Linked DNA regions of Homo sapiens: regions 1 and 2 are each linked to region 3. Evidence: fine-mapped QTL for protein levels in blood plasma. A gene starts in region 3. Each other region holds a variant in brackets. All regions are shown on one strand. Distances are between the middles of the regions. Region 1 overlaps CPNE5 (copine 5). Region 2 overlaps CPNE5 (copine 5). Region 3 holds the start of CDKN1A (cyclin dependent kinase inhibitor 1A).

The links. PIP is the chance, under the fine-mapping model, that this variant and not a neighbour inherited with it causes the effect. Protein levels are from antibody-based Olink assays in UK Biobank. Linkage for the fine-mapping came from a reference panel and not from the study's own genotypes, which makes the PIPs less certain.
Region 1: its variant is fine-mapped to the plasma level of the CDKN1A protein (UK Biobank, PIP 0.95).
Region 2: its variant is fine-mapped to the plasma level of the CDKN1A protein (UK Biobank, PIP above 0.99).

The regions. Positions count from the first base shown.
Region 1 is chr6:36,752,147-36,760,333 of GRCh38, forward strand. CPNE5 (copine 5) reads right to left here. Exons shown (of 21, transcript NM_020939.2): 13 at 4,099-4,152; 14 at 888-949. Among named protein-coding and RNA genes, the nearest start is that of RAB44, 58 kb to the left of the region's middle. RefSeq lists enhancers at 3,216-4,415, 7,101-7,290, 7,126-8,094. The variant A/ATG (reference allele first, on the strand shown) is at 3,365.
Region 2 is chr6:36,745,502-36,750,866 of GRCh38, forward strand. CPNE5 (copine 5) reads right to left here. Exons shown (of 21, transcript NM_020939.2): 15 at 2,720-2,766; 16 at 895-1,076; 17 at 1-14. Among named protein-coding and RNA genes, the nearest start is that of RAB44, 50 kb to the left of the region's middle. The variant C/T (reference allele first, on the strand shown) is at 1,380.
Region 3 is chr6:36,674,011-36,682,194 of GRCh38, forward strand. It overlaps CDKN1A (cyclin dependent kinase inhibitor 1A), which reads left to right and starts at 4,704. Exons shown (of 3, transcript NM_000389.5): 1 at 4,704-4,788. It overlaps PANDAR (promoter of CDKN1A antisense DNA damage activated RNA), which reads right to left and starts at 1,116. Exons shown (of 1, transcript NR_109836.1): 1 at 1-1,116. DINOL (damage induced long noncoding RNA) reads right to left here and starts at 4,549. Exons shown (of 1, transcript NR_144384.1): 1 at 3,599-4,549. It also overlaps the pseudogene LAP3P2. RefSeq lists enhancers at 2,216-2,305, 2,356-2,425, 2,405-3,604, 4,797-4,986, 4,998-5,585 and silencers at 4,517-4,746, 6,317-6,706.

The sequences.
Region 1 (8,187 bases), 78 kb after region 3:
CCAGGCAGCCAAGGGTCCACTTGGCTGGGATGAGCCTTTGGCAGTTGCTCCTGCCTGTCTCCTTTCCAGACAGGTGCAGTCACTCACCTGCGGGCTCTTGGCTGCCCACGCCCTGACCTGGCACCTGTCCTGGCAGGCAGCATGCTGGGCAGGCTCTACCCTTAGAGCCAGGCTCTTTCCGTGAGCTGCTGGCTGGGGCCTCCTGGCTCCCCCATCTGTCTGGGCCTAGACACTGTGCCTGGTGGTTCTTTCTGCTCCTTAAACTCATGTTTGACCACCTGCTGGCCCCAGGACCAATCCCTGGCTTATCCCCAATCCCGCTGCCCTTACAGGGCCCTAATAACAGTGAGCAGGTTAATCACTGTCCCCCTCCCCCAACCAGACAGATCAGAGGTGTCAGAAGCTCAGAGCTGTAAGGAACCTTAACACTTACCTATTCCGTTCTCTTTGTGTACAGAGGAGGAAACTGATACCCTGAGAGGAAAAATGACTCACCCAAAGGAACCCAGCAAATTAATGGCAAAGAGAGGCCTAGAGCCTGGGCCTCCTGACTCCTATTGCAGGGTTCTTTCTACATCCCCAAGCCCTTGGCTTTCTGTCACGGAGTCCCTACCAGCTCCAGGTCCTGTCTCTGCATGGAGACCTGACATGACCCAGGCCAGCCTCCTTGGCTCAGGAGTTCCCTCCAAGCTGCTTGGGATCTGGGGATGTGCAGGGCTCTGGATGAGTTGTCTCAGCCCAAACACCAGGGTTTGCTCAGAGCCCAGCACCACAGCCTTCAACCAGGGCTTTGAAGAGGCCAGGGTGGGGCCAGAGCCGGTCCTGTCGGTGTGTGGGGCCCTTTCCCTCTCCCCAAGGCCCATGAAATTGGCTGTATCTCTTCTCACCCTCCTTTGATGTAGTCAAGGAAGGTGCACTCTGACTCCACAGCAAAGGAAAGCAGGGTGACCTTCAAAACAAAAGGGAGCTTGGTCAGTGGGGAGCCTGGGGTCAGGGGAGATGGGTTATGATTCGAGAGCTGACATTGACAGAACACTCGGCATGTGCCAGTTTTGCATGCATGACTGCATGCACTGCCCACACCACCCCATGAAGTACTATTATTATCCCCACTTTATAGCCAAGGAAACTGAAACCCAAAGAGGTGGTGCAATGTGCCCAAGGACACTGCCAGGGCAGAGAAGGGATCTGAAACCAGGGTGTGTCTGACTTCAGAGCCTGCACTCTTGACCTTGACGGAAGGGTCCCATCTGTGTCAGTGGAACCGGGGTCCAAGCCAAGGGTGTTAGTTTCCTCTAAGTGGGCACTGGCTCTTCAGCCCCAGGGACCTAGGGTGGGGTGTGGAGGACAAGGGGGCCCTCCTGGCACAGGCCTAACAACCTGCCAATGCCGACCAGCTTCAGGCTTCCATGTGCCTAGAGCTATTAGTCCTGAAATGTGCCTCTTTGGACTGTGCTTATCTTAAATCTTACTGGTCCCATCTCATCCCTCTCAGACCCAAGATCCTGCCTCATAAGTAGCCCATCCTTTTCCCCAGAGGTAACTGACTACCCCAGGCCCCCTCCCCCAAGCAGAGGCCTTTTAACCTATGCCCTGGCAAAGTTAGCTTTGGCTTTGCCAAGACAGGCAGCTACCTGGCAGCTCATTATCATAACAATTTAGAATCAAGGAGACAAATGAAAGCCTGGCATCCTAGGCCAATTATATGAGACAAGATTAGGGCAGAGGACCTTTCACCTGTGTAAGAGAACGAACTCCTCTCTGGTAGTTTGGGAGCCCCCTATTCATGAAGATTCAGCTGTTTTTACAGGCTCATTGGGAGGGCCAGGTGAGAGCACCACCCTTACTTGGCAGTAAGACCCCCAGCTATTGTGGTTAAGGTATTAGGCACCTGGATGAACCACAGGCCTCCTTCCAAGTGTGGCAGCTCAGACTTACTAGGAACCACGGCAGTGGCTTCAACCCTGACTGATGACCATGAGATGCCCTGGGGGCTCTTAGATCATCCTGCAGCCCAGACCCATTATAGCCGAGTTTCCGGGGCTACATGAATGTTTCAGAGATCTTCTTTTTTTTTTTTTTTTTTAGCTCTTCACGTAAGTCTAATCTGCAGACACAGTTGACCACTCCCCATTCCAACCCCCAGGATGAAGCAATGCCCTAACTGCCCTGACCATATGGGTTCACCCAGGGGCTCGCAGGGTGAAAGCAGACTTTCCCCTATTCAAAGGGTAGTGTCCCTAGACCAGAGCGTCAGCATCACCTCGATGCCAGGTAGAAATGCAGAAATGCAGATTCTTGGCATTTTCACAAGATCCCCAGGGGATTCTGCACACCATAAGTAAGGGATGAAAAGCACTAAACACAGATTCCTGGGCCTCCTAAAGTGGAATCCCAGGGAACTGGCCTGGGCGTCTGTATTTCAGCAAGCTTTCTGCATCCCGGGTGATTTTTCGCGATGAAGATGGGGAAATGCTGGAGTAAAAGGAAAGTCAAGAGACCTGGGCCTAGGCCCGCTCTGTCTCCAGCTCACTGTGTGACCTGGGACAAATCGCATGCCCTCTCTAGGCCACAGTTTCTTCGTCTCTAAAGTAAGAAGGCTGGATGAGATCAGTGGTTTTTGAACCTTTTTATTCCCAGCTGGGGAAGGTGCTGTCTTCCCTAGGGGAATTTAGGAAGGCGTGGGAGAATTTTGGGGGTTCTCATAATGACTGGGGCTCTACTGGTAGCTATGGGCAGCAGCCAGGGGTGCTAAACATCCTGTGAGATGAAGAATTTTCCTGCCCAAATGCTGACAGCCTCTCCACTAAGAAACACCGCAGCCTTGGACAAAGGAAATATGACTCCAAGCCCCAGTCTGTGAAGCAGTTACAATCAAAGAAGTGGTGTTCAGTCCCCTTTGAATGAGCAGAGTAATTTTACAGTTCACAAGCCTGCATCTCCCATGTGTCTGTCACAGCTGCCCTGTGCAGTGGCAAGGTGGGGATGATTTATTAGTCCTACTTTACAGACGGAGAAAATGAGGCTTCTCAGAGGAACCCCAGAGCTCCTGAAAACCTCTTCTAGGTCTGGAGATACAGTCTGCCTGACTCAAATGACCAGGCTTGGCTGCACTAGCCATGGGCCTCTAGAGTGAGGAAGGAACACAGAGAGGATGAATCTGGGTGTGTTTGCACTGCAGAGAAAGTGGCTTGTTCTAGAAATGCACTGTGAGCTCCACCTCAGGGCCTTTGCATGTGCTGTTCTCTACAGCAGGAATGCTGGAATTCCCTTTCCCCAGTATCCTCAATACTTCCTCCATTGCCTGTCCCTTTACCCTTTATACTTTTTCCATAGCTCTCATAATCAACTGACACACACAGGC[A/ATG]TGTGTGTGTGTGTGTGTGTGTTTTTTTTTTTTCTCTGTCTCCTCCCACTAGAATATAAGCACCAGGGATTTGGGTCTGTCTTGTTTCCAGCTGTATCTGATGTGCCTAGAATAGTGCCTGGCACACAGTAGCACTCAGTAAGTATTTGCTGAAGAAGCGTATGAATGTCCTCAAGACCAGCCCCGAGAAGCCACTAGGCCGGCGTGTCATCCCAGGAAGGTCACGGTTAAGCAGGGGCAGCGCCCGTAGCAGCTGCCAGCTCTGGAGTGAGATGTCATGTTGAGTCCCATCTCTACCACTTTCTAGCTGTGTGACCTTGGCTGAGTCACTTTCCTGCTTGCAGCCTTGGTTTCCTCTTTCATGACTAGGGGATGATAATATCTGCCTCTCAGGGCAACAACCTGTGAAAAGCACCAACGTGGGGAATTTCCCAGGGTAGGGGCCCAATAAATACGACTTCTCTTCCTCTTCCTTCCTGCAGGAAGTCCCGTGGATGTCTCTGCGATTCCTCATGCTAGATACAGCCAGCGCCTGTTGTGTGGTCTGCAAGTCAACTCTCTCCCCTGGCTGTTGCTCCATCTGCCCCACCCCTCCCCACCCCATCTCTCTTGGATGTCTGATTCCCACGCTCAGCCCCTGCACACACACAGACGCACGGGCCTCCCTGATACCAGACCTAGCTTGGGGCTCAGAATGTCTACACCCGGCTGCAGAGACCGGGGTGGCTACTCACTGTGCCAGAATTCACGTATTTCTTTTTCTTCATTTTCTTTTTCGGGTTTACCACCTGCAGGAAAAACCAGTTACCAGGTAAGGCATGCTTCCAGGCAGTCAGGGTGAGTCTTGAGGGCTTCCAACCACCCATGGGTGTGGTCCAAGCCCAGCCCCATTAGAGTGTGGGGTGTGAAGACCACGGGGCCAGGGGAGAAGGGTTTAAGGAGGATTTGTGGGAGACTGGTATTGAGTCTGGGTTACACAACTGGGTTCTCCCATCAGACCCAGGGTCCCACGATCAACCGGGAATATTTATTTAACCTTCTCTCCCACTGTTCCCCGGAACACACGCACCCTCCACCCAGTATAGCCAAAGAAGTCTTGATGTTGCAAAGCGGCCCTATCTGTACCTGTCCCTTGTGTTGGTTGAGGCTGCTCCCCTCACCAAAAATGCACCCCCTTCCTCTCTCAGCCAATTCCAATCTCCCCTGTTCCTCCTTTGGGACCCAGCCCAAGGGCTGCCCAGGGCCTCTGAGGCTCCCCTCTCCATCACCATCCCTCTTACTTGGCAGCAAGAACCTCTTTAGCTATTCTTTGAGTGTAAGCTTTAACTTCCAAACCAGACCTGTGTCAGATAAATCATGGGGCTAGGCTCAGAGTAGGTGCTCAGAGAAGGCTTGTTGGTGGCTAACTCAGCGGTCTCAACCAGGGGCGATTTTACCCCCAGGAACGTTTGGTAACATCTGGAGACGGTTTTGGTTTCCACAACTGAGGGGGTGAGTAGAGGCCAGGCATGCTGCTAAACATCCTACAGTACACAAGACAGCCTCCCACGGCAGGGAGTGATGCAGTCCCAAATCCCAGTAGTGCCAAGGCCAAGACTGGGCAAAGTGACGAGAGCCACCCAGCCCTGAGGCCCCCCACGAGACTTCCGCACTTACTGTATTTGTATTCTCATTTGACCCTCGCCAGTTTTTCTTTGTTTTGTTTTTAATAAGGGAAGTCTAGGCACAACTTTTCCCTAATGTCCCATCAAACAAAGCCAGGCAATTTTCATACCTCCTGTGCTGCCTGTTGGTTTCTGGTGAACTCATTTCCCCTTTCCCTGTCTTTGTTCCCACAGAGGCCGTCAGCTGATCTTTACCGTGGTCTCTTCTGTCTGGGTGAGTATTGCTATCTACTTCCAGCAAGAAGGAAACTAAAGCACAGCGACACCAGGTGATTTGCCTAAAGTCACACAGCCATCTGGGTAGTGACAGGATTAGAAACCAGGTTTCCTGCCCCCGGGCCAGTGGTGCATACATTGGTGCCACCTTGATAACAGATACAAACAGATCTCTTTGACATACATTTATGGGGTGGGTGGAGACATATATTGCTTCTCCCCTGGAATCATCTATCACCTATGTTGGAGAGAGAAGATATGTCCTCAGGGCAAAAAGTGACAAGGGCCATGGAACAAGGGGGATCACAGAAGTGTCAGGGGAGTTAGAGGAAGGAAAGACCACTCTAGGTGAGAGTGTCAGCAAAGCCTCTCTGGAGCAGGAAGTCTTGAAGGCAGACTTAGAGGCACAGGAAGGCTCTGGGCACGGAGAGATGGATGTCAGAGGAGGTTCTGTGGGAGAAATGAATAGAACCCAGGCCCAGTTTGATGGCAGAACCACAGGGTGGAAGAGTAAGCTGGGCTGGTTGGAGGAGAGCCTAGAATGCCCAGTGAAAAATGTCTGAATGTCACCCAGCGGCCTGCAGGGAACTCTGATGACCCCCAAGCTGGTAGGAGACAAAATCAGAGCAGGCTCTAGGACACTGGGGCCTGGTGGAGGTGAGTGTGAGGGGAGGAGGAGGCTCATCCAGGAAATATTTGCCTAGTTCTGCCACCTAATAATAGCTGTGTGACCTTAGGCAGGTTACTTAACCTCAATGTGCCTCAGTCTCCTCATCTCTAAAATGGGAATAAGAAGTACCTGCCTCCCGGAAAGGTATGAGGATTAAATGGGCCAATGCAAGCAAAGTGCCTAGAACAGTTTGGAATGTAGTAAGTATTATCTATACGTGTCTGTTGCTTTTTTCTAAGACGGGGTCTTGCTCTATGGCCCAGGCTGGAGTGCAGTGGTGGGGTCATAGCTCACTGTGGCCTCAACCTCCCGGGCTCAAGCAATCCTTCCAGGTAGCTGCCACCATGTCTGGCTATTTTTTTTTTTTTGGTAGAGATAGGATCTCGCTATGTTACTCTGGCTGGTCTCAAACTCTTGGGCTCAAGCAATCCTCCTGCCTCAGTCTCCCAGAGTGTTGGGATTACAGGCGTGAGCCACTGCACCCAGCCTTAGTTGCTATTTTTCAAAATTACTACTACTATTATTACTGCCACCATAAGTCCATGCGAGAGGTCATGAGGACTTGGGGGTATTGGGACAGGTGCTGAGCTATGGTGAGAACAGCGCTGTCAAGAAGTGACCACGCCTCTTGGGCCCTGGGCGTGGCTATAGAGGTTCGAGAGAGGGAGGGGTTGGGGTGACCAGGTAGACACAGAAGGAAGGCGCTGGATTTGGGGCACAGGTGGGAAGTTCACGTGGGAGGTCTGGCAAGCTGTGCAGGTAGAAACTGAGGGCCTGGGCGAGATGGTGAGAGAGCCCGGGAGAGAAGACCAGAGCACCCTCTTTAGCACTGGAGGACGCCCCCTCCACGGGGTTACCCAGATGGTGAGGTGCTCACGGACACATTCATGGGAAAACAGCTTAAGTAGGCAAGCTGTTAAGATGAGGGCAAAATGGCAGCCCCAGTGCTGCACTGTGCCTCAGTTTCCCAATCTCTCCCTTGAGGGTGTTGAACTATCGGAATGGACAGCATCTCAAACTTTTGCTCCAACATAGCCCTCCCAGCTGGGGAGAATGAACCCGGAGTCCTGAGAGTAACCAAAGATTTGGCCACAAGCATGTTTCTTCTAAGCTTTCTATGTTATCTTTAAATTAGCCTGTATTCCACATTTCCACTCTCTGATATAACTGCTTTAATGTTAAAGCAATGTTCTGTTCTCAGATCCCTGTTTACCCTGAGGTTTCATGCTCCCAGCCTCAGCCTCTCCAGCCCCGCCACGGTGAATCCCATGCAGGGGGCCAGCGCCACCTAGGGGCCAGCCGAGGAGCTGCCCCTCCACTAAGTCACCTCCCTTCTTCTTGGTGGTCAGGCGGGGACAGGACAGGTCTGGAATCTGCCCTCCTGCGCACATTAGGTGGGGTGGGTGGGGGCACTGAGGGGCTCCTAGGGGCCAGGAGCTGTGCTGGCTCTGGGGATGCAGCAGTAAGTGCAACACAACCCCCACCCTGAGGACTTCAAGGTCTTTGAGGGGTTGAATAGTGTCACAAAACAGAAAATAGCCAGAAGGAACCCCAGGAGCACTGACAAGTGTCCACTCCAGGCTCTGGGGTGGGGCGGGTGTGCAGGTGGACACAACTTCCTGGAGGAGGAACACCCACAGGGAGGCTCCGTGGACCAATAGCTCCTACCCAGGAGAAGACAAGAGGGAGTCTCAGGTGGAGGCACCCATATGAATCGAGCCCTGGAGGCTGAGACAGCACGGAGGTTCAGAGAGCCTCAGGTGGCAGGACGGGGATGAATGTGGGAATGGGCAGAGGGAAGGGGCAGGGGCCAGCTCCTAGGGGCCTCCAAAGGCATGTGATGTGTGTTTTTATTTACATGCACAGCCAGGCGTGGTGGCTCACACCTGAAATCCCAGCACTTTGCAAGGCCGAGGCGGGTGCATCACCTGAGCTCAGGAGTTGGAGGCCAGACTGGGCAACATGGCAAAAACCCATCTCTACCAAAAATGCAAAAAAAAAAAAAAATCGCCAGGGTGGTGGTGTGTGCCTGTGGTCCCAGCTACTTGGGAGACTGAGGTGGGAGGATAGCTAGAGCCTGGAAGTAGAGGTGGAGGTTGCAGTAAGCCGAGATTGTGCCACTGCACTCCAGCCTGGGTGAGAATGAGACTCCATCTTAAAAAAAAAAAAAAAGCACGCATACACAGATTGCGGGTGGCTGGCTGGGGAAACAGCATCCCAAATGAAAGAGCTTGGAACTTCACCCTGTAGGTCAGTGGATCTCAGCTGCGGTG
Region 2 (5,365 bases), 70 kb after region 3:
TCCTGGTTGCCATTCTGGGGGACAGAGGGCAGGGAGGCTGAGCCCAGGAAGGAAGGACAGGGGTGCACGATGTGTGGGAACTGAGTCCAGGTGGGGAGGCCAGCAGGCCTGGGCTCCCCCAGGTCTTCTCTGGTGTGGGGTGGCGGGGCAGGGGAGGGAGCTCCCAGGGCCCATCCTGAAGCAGTGCATGCTTCAGGTGAGCTGGGTCCAAACCTGCTCCTTACCCGGCTCCCTGTACCTGTTCAGAGATGCCCCAAGATCCCTGGCTGCTTCCCTCAGGGAACCTTGGGTAAATCCACTCTGCCCTAAAATGACTGCTGGGTCTCAGCAACTCAGGAAGGACCTGTGGCTGATCTGTCCACGTGCACACTGGGCCCAGCACAGCACCTTGCACCCTCAGGCATGGGAGGGACGTCTGCTGTGCCTGAGTGTCCCCAGCTCGTGGGAGCCAGGGAAAGGGGTGGCCTGTGCAATCATCTCCACAGGGCCCGGGATGCCCAGATGACGCCATGCTCCACATCACCCTGGAGATCCACGTCATCCCATCTCAGCACTGACTCAGGGATACCCAACCCACACCACCTTGTTCACTTTTCTGGGGCCCTGAGGGATGGGTCAGCCACAGCTCGCCTCCACCTGCACCTGCGTCTTGTCAGGAACAAGGAAGCCAGGGCCAGCTGTGGGCAGGCAGCTTCAGACATGGAGGGGCAGCATCTGTGATCAGGGAAGGGAGTGGATTTCTGGAGCCCCCCTACACACAGCAGGCAGTCTACCTCCACTGAGGCTGAGCCTTAAGTCCCCGGGCTCAGAGGAAGGGAAACGTCCCCCCACCCCCAGCTTGTCACCTCACCCCCAGCCTGATCAGTCCTCTCTCCCACCAGCGGGACCACCTACCAGTGGGAACTCGTGGGACACTCTGCCATCCGGGGGCAGCTTGGCCCCGAAGCCCAGGGCAGGGAACATCTTGTCACTGTCGTAGTGCTGGATGATCTCTCCGACGGCAGTCAGCGCCAGCGCGTAGGCGTTCAGCTGGTAGGGGCTCATGTAGTGCAGGGATGTGGACTGTGAGGGGTTCCCTGTAACACAGGACATGGGAGCCTTTGACCATCTGGACCCTCCAAGTCACCCCGGGTTCAGAATGAAGAAGGGGGTGTCCAAGGGCACCCCTAACTTTTATTAATTCTTGACTCCTCTCTTTCTCTCATACCCCATGTTAAATCCTTCAGCAAAACAGATCTAGAATCCCTCCTCCGCCTCTCCTCCTCCCCATACCACCACCCTCTTGCTTATAGGATGCAGCAGTCTCCTAACTGATCTCCCACTTCCTTCTGCCCCTGTGCCTCCAGCCCATATCCAGCACAGCAGTGACTGAGCCTATC[C/T]GCCTCAGAGAGATCATGCCTCTCCTCTGCCCAAAACGCTCAATGCCTCCACCTCCCCCAAAATGAAACCCAAAGTCCTCACAAGAGCCCGCAAGCACTCATGATCTGGCCTCCAGGTCATCTCCTACCCTCCTCCCTGTCACTCGCCAGTCCCAGCCTCACCAGCCCCTCGCCATTCCCACCTCAGGACCTTGGTGATGGCTGTTCCCTCTACCTGGGACACTCTTCCCCAGATGTCCACTCCCTGGCCCGCTCCCTGGCCTCTTCAGGTCTCTGCTCAAGTGTCACCTCCTCAGTGTGATCTTTTCCAAGCAGCCTATTAAAAATTACAGCCTCCCCCAATCCTTCCTATCCTTCTTCCTGGCTTGATTTCCCCCCCCAGAGCCCTCTTCGCTGCCAATATAGTCTGTATTTAACTTATTTGTTCATTGATGGGAGGTAGTACAGCACAGATTGCCAAGGTACCAATCCTGTCTACCTCCTGCTAGTTATGTGATCTTGGGTAAGTTCCTTAACCTTAGCCTTAGTCTCTTCACCTGTAAAATCAGAGCAATAATAGTTCCTACTTCATAGGATTGATGTGAATATTACACAGATGCTATCGATATTATGATAACTATCCTCAGTGTTATTATTACTAAGGCCCCTTCCAGCTCTGATAGCCCAGTGCTCTATGATGCTAGGACTTACAGCTATAAGAGGAGCTCCTGACACCTGTAGAGGGCAAGACCTGGGCATTTTTGATTGGTGCAAAAATTAGCACTGAGCACCCCTAATAGAGCCCAGAGCCCAAGGGAGGTTGTGATGTTTCTAATCATGTAAAGTTGGGCACTGTTATTGCTCCTAGTGACTCAGCCACAGGCTGACACTGGAGAAATTGGGAGGAGGTAAGGAAGCCAGGGCAGCCCCAGCCAGGTAAGGACTGGGGTCCCTGGGCTGGATCCTGCCTCCCTGAACACCACAGAGCTCAGCCTTGGCTCTGATTCTCCACTCCAGCCTGTGGGTTGGACTGCACAGAGGAGCTGGGATTTGATCCCGGGGGGAAACATCTCCAGGGCCCTCCATAGGCCCAGAGTACACACAATCCCATTCCCCCAGGGAGACTGGGTGTTCCTCAAGGACAAGGCTGTGGCTCAGAGCCCAGATTTATGTCAATGGTCCAACCTGGGGATACTACTGCCATCTTGGTTGTATCTTTGGTCCTCCAGACCTAGGTACATCCTCTTTGGTGAGGAAGAGGCCAGAGAGTATGAGGGTCATGGTCCCAGCCAGGGCCAGATGCCACAGCCCTTAAAAGCTCTCTCCTCCCACCCTGCTCCTCTACCCATCCCCCAACTCACCATTGGAGGCAGTGAAATCAATGGCCACAGTGAAGTTGATCTGGGTCCTAGAAGAGGGAGAACAGCAGGGGAGTCACCTGGAGGGAGGCAGGGCTGTGGGAGGGGGGACAGTGCTAGACATTGGCTACCACCCTGGCTCTGCTGCTTGCCAGGTGTGTGGCCTTGGTGAAGTCATTCATCTCTTTCTAGTTCTGGAGAGCTGAGATAGTAATGCCAGCTATGCCCCCCTTACAGGATTAATGAGCATCAGAAGAGTTATGCAGTAGGAAAGCTCTTTGAAGATGATTGTGTTCTGTGTGGGCATGTGGCTATGGTCACTTATTTCCTCCACAAACCCTACCCCCTGGGCCCACCTGTGTAGGCTGGGTGAGGTTGGGTCTCATTGGATTGCTGACTCAAATTTGGAGTGAGATTCAGGACGAAAACTCATTTGACAAAAAAGAGAGTCAAATAGACATTATGCATCTCCTAAAGAAAGAATAGAATACCACCCATGAAGTTGTCTTACCAAAAAATTGAACCTGATTCTGATTGAGGCTCCAGAGCTGTCTAGTTAGTTACAGGAAATACAAGGGACAGAGGAACACATTAAATGACACCACAGGAGATGCAGCCAGCAAAATCCAGTCTTTGGGAAACTCTGTAGAAGCACTACCAGAGACAGCAGCAGCACCATCTCCTGGGAATATGCTGGGCCTCTCAGACTCTATCTAGCTCTCCTGAATCTTTTTTTGGAAAAGAGGTCTCGCTCTGTCACCCAGGCTGAAATGCAGTGGCGTGATCACAGCTCACTTCAGCCTCAACCTCCTGGGCTCAAGCAGTTTTCCCACCTCAGCCTCCTAAATAGCTGGGACCACAGGCACGCACCACCACACCTGGCTTTTTTTTTTCTTTTTGCAGAGATGGGGTCTCATTATATTGGCCAACCTGGTCTTGAACTCCTGGGCAAAAGTAATCCTCCTGCCTCAGCCTCCCAAAGTGCTGGGATTACAGGTGTGAGCCACCACATCTGGCTGAATATTAGATTCTCTTGGTGGGGTACAGGAATCTGTGTTAGCAAGCCATTCAGGTGCTTGGGGGGAATGAATAGATGAAAAGAGAATTAAGAGACCAACCCACCAATCACAGCCTATGGCTCTTGCCTGGATTTCTGACTCAAACAAACCAATTTTAAAACTATAAGATAATTGGGGAGATGTAAACATTTACTAGATATTTAGTATTAAGGAATTGTTAATTTTTTAGGTGTGGTTATGGTATTGTGGTTATGTTTGATAAAGAGAGAGTCCTTATGTTTTAGAAAGACATCCTAAAGCATTTGGGGATAAAATATGATGGCTGGGATTTGCTTCAAATTGGATATTGGGAGCCTGAGGTGGGAGGATTGATTGACACTAGGAGTTCAAGGCCAGCCTGAGCAACATAGTGAGACCTCAAAAATAAAAAAAAAAAACCCACTAAAATAAAAAATAATAATAAATGACTGAATGAAGGGTGGAGTGCATGAAACAAGACTGGCTATGATGTGGTAATGGCTGAAGCTGGGTGAAGGGTACTTGCATGTTGATTATACCTTTTCTCCACATTTGCATGTGTTTGACGTTTTCTATAATAAAAAGTTAGGTTTTGAGGATTCAGATTCAGGCTTGAGACTTTCTGAGGGCTTGGCCATTCTAGGTTCTCTGCCGGGTCCAGACAGAACAAAGCTGACAAACACAAGTCCCTGATAAAGTCTAGTCTTATGGTTCTCACACGGCAGTGAGCATAGAATCACTACGGGTGCTTGCTTAAGAAGATTCCAGGGCTCCACCCCAGAAATGCCAATTGAGTTTGTCTGGAGTGGCTCCCAGAATCTACCTCTTGAAAAAATGTCCACTGCCTTCATCCAGGGATTATGAGGACACGAGGCTGGGATAACGCTGGGGAAAACTCTGTTCTAGTAATTCTTAGTTGGGGCTATGGATGATGTAAGATCAGGTAGGCCTCACCTCACTTGCATTTAGCAGAAGGTGCCTATCAGAAACCACAGCTCTATCAGCCCAAGATCCCTGTCACAGACACAGCAGAAGGTCCCTATCAGAAACCACCTGATCACAGCTGAGCTGCTGCTCATGGAACCCTCACTCACCCCCAGGGAAATGTCAAGGACATGGTTAGCAGGAGACCCCAGCCAGGGTCTGCTGGCCACAGACAGTCATCCCCACCTCTTTCTCCTCTTCTGCTGGCTGGGGGCAGAGCATCCAGAGGATTCCAGGCAGTAGGATAGAAGGAGCCGCAAAGCTAGCAAGAACCTGGGTCCCTGAATGACTGCGTGGATCATCTCCCCACCCAACCCTGCCATCCCACAGATGAAAAACAGACCTTTATTGGTATGAAGGCTTGAGGTTAGGGAATTATGTGTTACAGCAGTTGACCTACCATACTCATCTGCTGTTTGTTGTCACCCCCGCTTCAGTGTGGAATGTAGAACGCATGTCTTTGTTAGAGGTAGGGAGACATTTGGAGGGTGAAAGTCCCGCTCCCAGGGCCACTCTTGGGAAGATGATTCTGGCCTGTGGGACTATACTGGAGGGACACTGTTGGACTGGCTCTTCCAAATACAGGGTGAGGGGAAAGGCAGGCCTTGCTCTAACTAGTCCTCCCCTG
Region 3 (8,184 bases):
GGTGCTAGTTGGCCTCGGCAAAAAGGCAGCCAGAATCGACGAACAGGAAAACTGGCAGGAAGGCAAAGAAAACATCAGAGCTGCTGTTGCAGCAGGATGCAGGCAGATTCAAGACCTGGAGCTCTCTTCCGTGGAGGTGGATCCCTGTAGAGATGCTCAGGCTGCTGAGGAGGGCGCGGTGCTTGGTCTCTATGAATACGATGACCTAAAGCAAAAAAAGAAGATGGCTATGTCGGTGAAGCTCTATGGAACTGGGGATCAGGAGGCCTGGCAGAAAGGAGTCCTGTTTGCTTCTGGGCAGAACTTGGCATGATGGAGACGCCAGCCAGCGAGATGATGCCAACCAGATTTGCCGAAATTATTGAGAAGAATCTCAAAAGCGCTAGTAGTAAACCGAGTTTCATATCAGACCCAGGTCTTGGATTGAGGAACAGGCAATGGGATCATTCCTCAGTGTGGCCAAAGGATCTGACGAGCCCTCAGTCTTCTTGGAAATTCACTACATAGGCAGCCCCAATGCAGACAAACCACCCCTTGTTTGTTGGGAAAGGAATTACCTTTGACAGTGGTGGTATCTCCATCAAGGCTTCTGCAAATATGGACCTCATGAGGGCCGACATGGGAGGAGCTACAACTATATGCTCAGCCATTGTGTCTGCTGCAAATCTCAGTTTGCCCATTAATATTATAGGTCTGGCCCCTCTGTGAAAACATGCCCAGCGGCAAGGCCAACAAGCTGGGGGATGTTGTTAGAGCCAGGAACAGGAAGACCATCCAGGTTGGTAACACTGATGCTGAGGGGAGGCTCATACTGGCTGATGCGCTCTGTTACGTGCACACATTTAACCCGAAGGTCATCCTCAATGCCACCACCTTAACAGGTGTCATAGATGTAGCTTTGGGGTCAGGTGCCACTGGGGTCTTTACCAATTCATCCTGGCTCTGGAACAAGCTCTTCGAGGCCAGCATTGAAACAGGGGACCGTGTCTGGAGGATGCCTCTCTTCAAACATTGTACAAGACAGGTTGTAGATTGCCAGCTGGCTGATGTTAACAACATTGGAAAATATAGATCTGCGGGAGCATGTACATCTGCGGCATTCCTGAAAGAATTCGTGACTCATCCTAAGTGGGCACATTTAGACATAGCAGGTGTGATGACCAACAAAGATGAGGTTCCCTATCTATGGAAAGGCATGACCGGGAGGCCCACAAGGACTCTCATAGAGTTCTTACTTCGTTTCAGTCAAGACAATGCTTAGTTCAGATACTCAAAAATGTCTTCACTCTATCTTAAATTGGACAGTTGAAGTTAAAAGGTTTTTGAATGAATGGATGAAAATATTTTAAAGGAGGCAATTTATATTTAAAAATGTAGAACACAATGAAATTTTTATGCCTTGATTTTTTTTTCATTTTACACAAAGATTTATATATTTTTTTTTTGAGACGGAGTCTCACTCTGTCACCCAGGCTGGAGTGCAGGTGGCATGATCTCAGCTCACTGCAACCTCCGCCTCCTAGGTTCAAGCGATTCTCCCACCTCAGCCACCTGAATACCTGGGACTACAGGTGCCCACCACCATGCCCGGCTGATTTTTGTATTTTTAATGGAGACGGGGTTTCACCATATTGGCCAGGCTGGTCTCAAAACTCCTGACCCTGTGATCTGCCCGCCTCGGCCTCCCAAAGTGCTGGGATTACAGGCGTAAGCCACCACGCCCGGCCAGTATATATTTTTAATTGAGAAGCAAAATTGTACTTCAGATTTGTGATGCTAGGAACATGAGCAAACTGAAAATTACTAACCACTTGTCAGAAACAATAAATCCAACTTTTTGTGCAAAAAAAAAAATACAAATATTAGCTGGGCATGGTGGTGCATGCCTGTAATCCCAGCTACTCGGGAGGCTGAGGCAGAATTGCTTGAACCTGGGAGGCGGAGACTGCAGTGAGCTGAGATTGTGCCACTGCTGACTTTGTCTCAAAAAACAAAACAAAACAAAAAAACAAAATGAAAACAAAAAGCCAGGGCTGCCTCTGCTCAATAATGTTCTATCTTTGTTCCGCCTCTTCTCTGGGGTCTCACTTCTTGGGAGCCTGTGTGAAGGTGAATTCCTCTGAAAGCTGACTGCCCCTATTTGGGACTCCCCAGTCTCTTTCTGAGAAATGGTGACATTGTTCCCAGCACTTCCTCTCCCTTCCTAGGCAGCTTCTGCAGCCACCACTGAGCCTTCCTCACATCCTCCTTCTTCAGGCTTGGGCTTTCCACCTTTCACCATTCCCCTACCCCATGCTGCTCCACCGCACTCTGGGGAGGGGGCTGGACTGGGCACTCTTGTCCCCCAGGCTGAGCCTCCCTCCATCCCTATGCTGCCTGCTTCCCAGGAACATGCTTGGGCAGCAGGCTGTGGCTCTGATTGGCTTTCTGGCCGTCAGGAACATGTCCCAACATGTTGAGCTCTGGCATAGAAGAGGCTGGTGGCTATTTTGTCCTTGGGCTGCCTGTTTTCAGGTGAGGAAGGGGATGGTAGGAGACAGGAGACCTCTAAAGACCCCAGGTAAACCTTAGCCTGTTACTCTGAACAGGGTATGTGATCTGCCAGCAGATCCTTGCGACAGGGCTGGGATCTGATGCATGTGTGCTTGTGTGAGTGTGTGCTGGGAGTCAGATTCTGTGTGTGACTTTTAACAGCCTGCTCCCTTGCCTTTTTCAGGGCAGAAGTCCTCCCTTAGAGTGTGTCTGGGTACACATTCAAGTGCATGGTTGCAAACTTTTTTTTTTAAAGCACTGAATAGTACTAGACACTTAGTAGGTACTTAAGAAATATTGAATGTCGTGGTGGTGGTGAGCTAGAAGTTATAAAAAAAATTCTTTCCCAAAAACAACAACAAAAAGAATTATTTCATTGTGAAGCTCAGTACCACAAAAATTTAAATAATTCATTACAAGCCTTTATTAAAAAAAATTTTCTCCCCAAAGTAAACAGACAGACAATGTCTAGTCTATTTGAAATGCCTGAAAGCAGAGGGGCTTCAAGGCAGTGGGAGAAGGTGCCTGTCCTCTGCTGGACATTTGACAACCAGCCCTTTGGATGGTTTGGATGTATAGGAGCGAAGGTGCAGACAGCAGTGGGGCTTAGAGTGGGGTCCTGAGGCTGTGCCGTGGCCTTTCTGGGGTTTAGCCACAATCCTGGCCTGACTCCAGGGCGAGGCAGGCCAAGGGGGTCTGCTACTGTGTCCTCCCACCCCTACCTGGGCTCCCATCCCCACAGCAGAGGAGAAAGAAGCCTGTCCTCCCCGAGGTCAGCTGCGTTAGAGGAAGAAGACTGGGCATGTCTGGGCAGAGATTTCCAGACTCTGAGCAGCCTGAGATGTCAGTAATTGTAGCTGCTCCAAGCCTGGGTTCTGTTTTTTAGTGGGATTTCTGTTCAGATGAACAATCCATCCTCTGCAATTTTTTAAAAGCAAAACTGCAAATGTTTCAGGCACAGAAAGGAGGCAAAGGTGAAGTCCAGGGGAGGTCAGGGGTGTGAGGTAGATGGGAGCGGATAGACACATCACTCATTTCTGTGTCTGTCAGAAGAACCAGTAGACACTTCCAGAATTGTCCTTTATTTATGTCATCTCCATAAACCATCTGCAAATGAGGGTTATTTGGCATTTTTGTCATTTTGGAGCCACAGAAATAAAGGATGACAAGCAGAGAGCCCCGGGCAGGAGGCAAAAGTCCTGTGTTCCAACTATAGTCATTTCTTTGCTGCATGATCTGAGTTAGGTCACCAGACTTCTCTGAGCCCCAGTTTCCCCAGCAGTGTATACGGGCTATGTGGGGAGTATTCAGGAGACAGACAACTCACTCGTCAAATCCTCCCCTTCCTGGCCAACAAAGCTGCTGCAACCACAGGGATTTCTTCTGTTCAGGTGAGTGTAGGGTGTAGGGAGATTGGTTCAATGTCCAATTCTTCTGTTTCCCTGGAGATCAGGTTGCCCTTTTTTGGTAGTCTCTCCAATTCCCTCCTTCCCGGAAGCATGTGACAATCAACAACTTTGTATACTTAAGTTCAGTGGACCTCAATTTCCTCATCTGTGAAATAAACGGGACTGAAAAATCATTCTGGCCTCAAGATGCTTTGTTGGGGTGTCTAGGTGCTCCAGGTGCTTCTGGGAGAGGTGACCTAGTGAGGGATCAGTGGGAATAGAGGTGATATTGTGGGGCTTTTCTGGAAATTGCAGAGAGGTGCATCGTTTTTATAATTTATGAATTTTTATGTATTAATGTCATCCTCCTGATCTTTTCAGCTGCATTGGGTAAATCCTTGCCTGCCAGAGTGGGTCAGCGGTGAGCCAGAAAGGGGGCTCATTCTAACAGTGCTGTGTCCTCCTGGAGAGTGCCAACTCATTCTCCAAGTAAAAAAAGCCAGATTTGTGGCTCACTTCGTGGGGAAATGTGTCCAGCGCACCAACGCAGGCGAGGGACTGGGGGAGGAGGGAAGTGCCCTCCTGCAGCACGCGAGGTTCCGGGACCGGCTGGCCTGCTGGAACTCGGCCAGGCTCAGCTGGCTCGGCGCTGGGCAGCCAGGAGCCTGGGCCCCGGGGAGGGCGGTCCCGGGCGGCGCGGTGGGCCGAGCGCGGGTCCCGCCTCCTTGAGGCGGGCCCGGGCGGGGCGGTTGTATATCAGGGCCGCGCTGAGCTGCGCCAGCTGAGGTGTGAGCAGCTGCCGAAGTCAGTTCCTTGTGGAGCCGGAGCTGGGCGCGGATTCGCCGAGGCACCGAGGCACTCAGAGGAGGTGAGAGAGCGGCGGCAGACAACAGGGGACCCCGGGCCGGCGGCCCAGAGCCGAGCCAAGCGTGCCCGCGTGTGTCCCTGCGTGTCCGCGAGGATGCGTGTTCGCGGGTGTGTGCTGCGTTCACAGGTGTTTCTGCGGCAGGTGAATGACGGGCGTGGGTCGGTGCGCGCTCGGCTTGCGCACACGGTGTCTCTAAGTGCGCGGGTGACGAGAGTCGGGATGTGCCGGAGACCCCGGGGCGGAGAGCGGGATTACAAGTACAGGAATCCCTGGTCACGCTCCCCGCCCCTGGAAACCCAGCTGGGGCGAGGGAGGGCGTGGACGGGACCGTTCTGGGAGCTCGCCTTTGGCTGCGGTTGGCTCCAGGCCCCAGGCGCAGTTTGCTCGCGGCGTGGGGATGAAGTCCGTGTCCCTGGAGGGGCCCAGGAAGGGCGAGGAAAGCGGAGTGGAGTAAGTTCGTCTAGGATCGGTCCCGGGTGGCTCTGGGATCCAATCTGCGCCGCCCTGGCCCAGGTCCCAGGTTCAGGTCCTTTACGCCACTGTGTCCACCACCTGGCTGAGCGCTGAGGTCAGCGCGGGCTGTTTCCTGGCCCTTGGGAATGTGCCAGGACCCGTCCCCTAAGGACTAGCGAGGAGGTGACTCACTGTGACAAGGAGACCCCAGGGAACGGACTGTATGAGGTCAGAACCCCGCCCGGGATGGGGTACAGCGGGACTCCAGAAGCCCTCTCCCCTGCCCCTTCGCGGTCTCCGTCCTCCCATCGGCACAGTGACCTATTTGGCTGGAACAGTTTGTTCCCAAGGAAGCCGGGCACTGGAGGTCCGGGACACCGCGTCGGGTCCCCGCTCCGCGGCGCGCTGTAGGGGTCGGGGAGTCACGGCCCTGCTCTGGGCGGGCTCTAACCAGCCTGTCAGTCGGGGAAGGGCAAGGGTCTCCTCTACCTCTTTCCCACCGCGGCCGGGAGAATCGCGGCCCAGCCTGTCCTCGGGTCGGGGCGCTGGACTCCGGGGCGGGAGCGGAGCCCACGCCTGGATGGGAGGCGGGGAGGGTTCATGTCTTTGAGGGGTGGGGGGTCTGGGGGGCACGACGCTGCTCAGGGCCTCTATCAGCTGCCTCGGGGGCTCAGGGCTTCCCGACCTAGCCCAGATTCCCTCTCCGAAAGCTACAGGGCTGAGCGGAGCAGGGGGGCGAGTCGCCCCCTGGGGCGCCGCCGCCTGGCGCGGACCACAGCGCGTCCTCTCCGTCCCAAACCCCTGGGGGACACTTGCGCCCTCTTCGTGAGGAAAAGCATCTTGGAGCTGGGTTAGGAACTTGGGGCGCCCAGGCAGCTTCCCCTCTCCTTGCCTCCCTCCACGTCGCGTTTCTGGGAGGACTTGCGAGCGGTTTTGTTTTCGTTGCTCCCGTCTATTTTTATTTTCCAGGGATCTGACTCATCCCGTGCTTTGGGCGTGGAGATAAGGTGGAGGGGCCGGCTCCCGGCGCGCGCGCGCGTGCGTGTCTGCGCGGGCGTGTGTGTGTGTGTGTGTGTGTGTGTGTGTGTGTGTGTCTGTGTCAGAGACGGCACAAGAGCGCGCGGTTTCCCAACAGCGGCGGGAGTTTCGGAAGCCTGGCCGGCTCAGCGTGACGTGTTCGCGGCCCCCCGGTCCCCTCCCATTCTCCCCCTCCCCACCCCAGGGTGACGCGCAGCCGGAGTGGAAGCAGTTTTGGCGGGCGAGCAGCGCCTTGCAGGAAACTGACTCATCACTACTCCCTCCAGCGGTCCGAGGCTCTGCCCACGCACCTCCCACTCCGCGCGTGATTTCCTGGAGGCCGGCGCCCCCTCCCGGCCCTGGCGGGAATAGCACACAGGCTTTCCCGCGGAGTGGGGCTGGCCGGCGCGAACCGCCGCGGCTACTCCTGGGCTCATCCGAGATCAACCCCTATGCCATTACCACCCCTTCAAAGGAGCACTCCTTAGGTTCAACAGTATTCACTGAGCTCTTACTGGAAATTAAAATATGGCTGAAGTCTAAGGCAGGAAGGCCAATAAAGGAGGCTATTTTTAATTGTTTCTAAAACAAGGGTTTGCGTTTCTGAGTTTTCTTTGGGCTGAAAGTTATTATGAGCATGAGAGCAGATTTTGATGGGGGAGGAGAGGCCTATGAGAGCCATAAGAGAAGGAGGGGTGGTAGAAGAGGAGAGGGTGCCTGCCTAGATCCTAGTCCTGTCTTGAACTCCCGAGAGCCAGGGAATATCCAGCACCTTGATGAAGCCCTAGGCGGGCGCCTCCTCCTTGTGCCTATGATGTATTGAGACCCAGAATGTCCATTTCAAACATACCAGTGTGTCTCCGCTTGGCTGGCAACCCAAGAGTGCCCATCTGAGGAATTGTGCCAAACACTTGCTTGAATCTTCAATCTGGATTAAGTTGGTCTCGGGAGGCAGGGCCTCAGCAATCTATATTTTGAAAAAACTCCCTAGGTGCTTTTCTTTCTTTCTTTTTTTCTTTCTTTCTTTCTTTCTTTCTTTCTTTCTTTCTTTCTTTCTTTCTTTCTTTTTCTTTCTTTCTTTCTTTTTCTTTCTTTTCTTTCTTTCTTTCTTTCTTTCTTTCTTTCTTTCTTTCTTTCTTCCTTTCTCTTTCTCTCTTTCTTTCTCTTTCTCTCTTTCTTTCTTTTCTTTCGACAGAGTTGCACTCTGTCACCCAGGCTGGAGTGCAATGGCACCATCCTGGACTCAAGTAGTCCTCCTGTTTCAGCCTCCCAAGTAACCGGGACCACAGGCGTGATCCCCCCGCCCCCATGCCCAGATTTTTTTTTTTTTTTTTTTTTTTTTGAGATGCGGTCTCGCTCTGTCACCCAGGCTGGAGTGCAGTGGCGTGATCTCGGCTCACTGCAAGCTCCGCCTCCCGGGTTCACGCCATTCTCCTGCCTCAGCCTCCCGAGTAGCTGGGACTACAGGTGCTGCCATCATGCCCGGCTAATTTTTTTTTGTATTTTTAGTAGAGACGGGGTTTCACCGTGTTAGCCAGGATGGTCTCAATCTCCTGACCTCGTGCTCCGCCCTCCTCGGCCTCCCAAAGTGCTGGGATTACAGGTGTGAGACACTGCACCCAACCACCCAGCTAATTTTTATTTATTTTTATTTTTAGTAGAGACAGGGTCTCAGCTAGTTGCCCAGGCTAGTCTTGGACCCTTGGGCTCAAATGATTCTCCCACCTCTGCCTCCCAGAGTATTAGGATTACAGGCATAAGCCACTGCCCCTGGCCTCCCCAAGTGATTGTGATGGGCCTCTCTGGTTAAGAAACCTCAAAATTAGAGAGGGAGTGGGGTTCAATACTACAGCACAGGACTCAGGGCAAACAGGCCTGGGTTCAGATCCTGGCTGTGCCACTTATGAACTGTGTGATGTTAGGCAA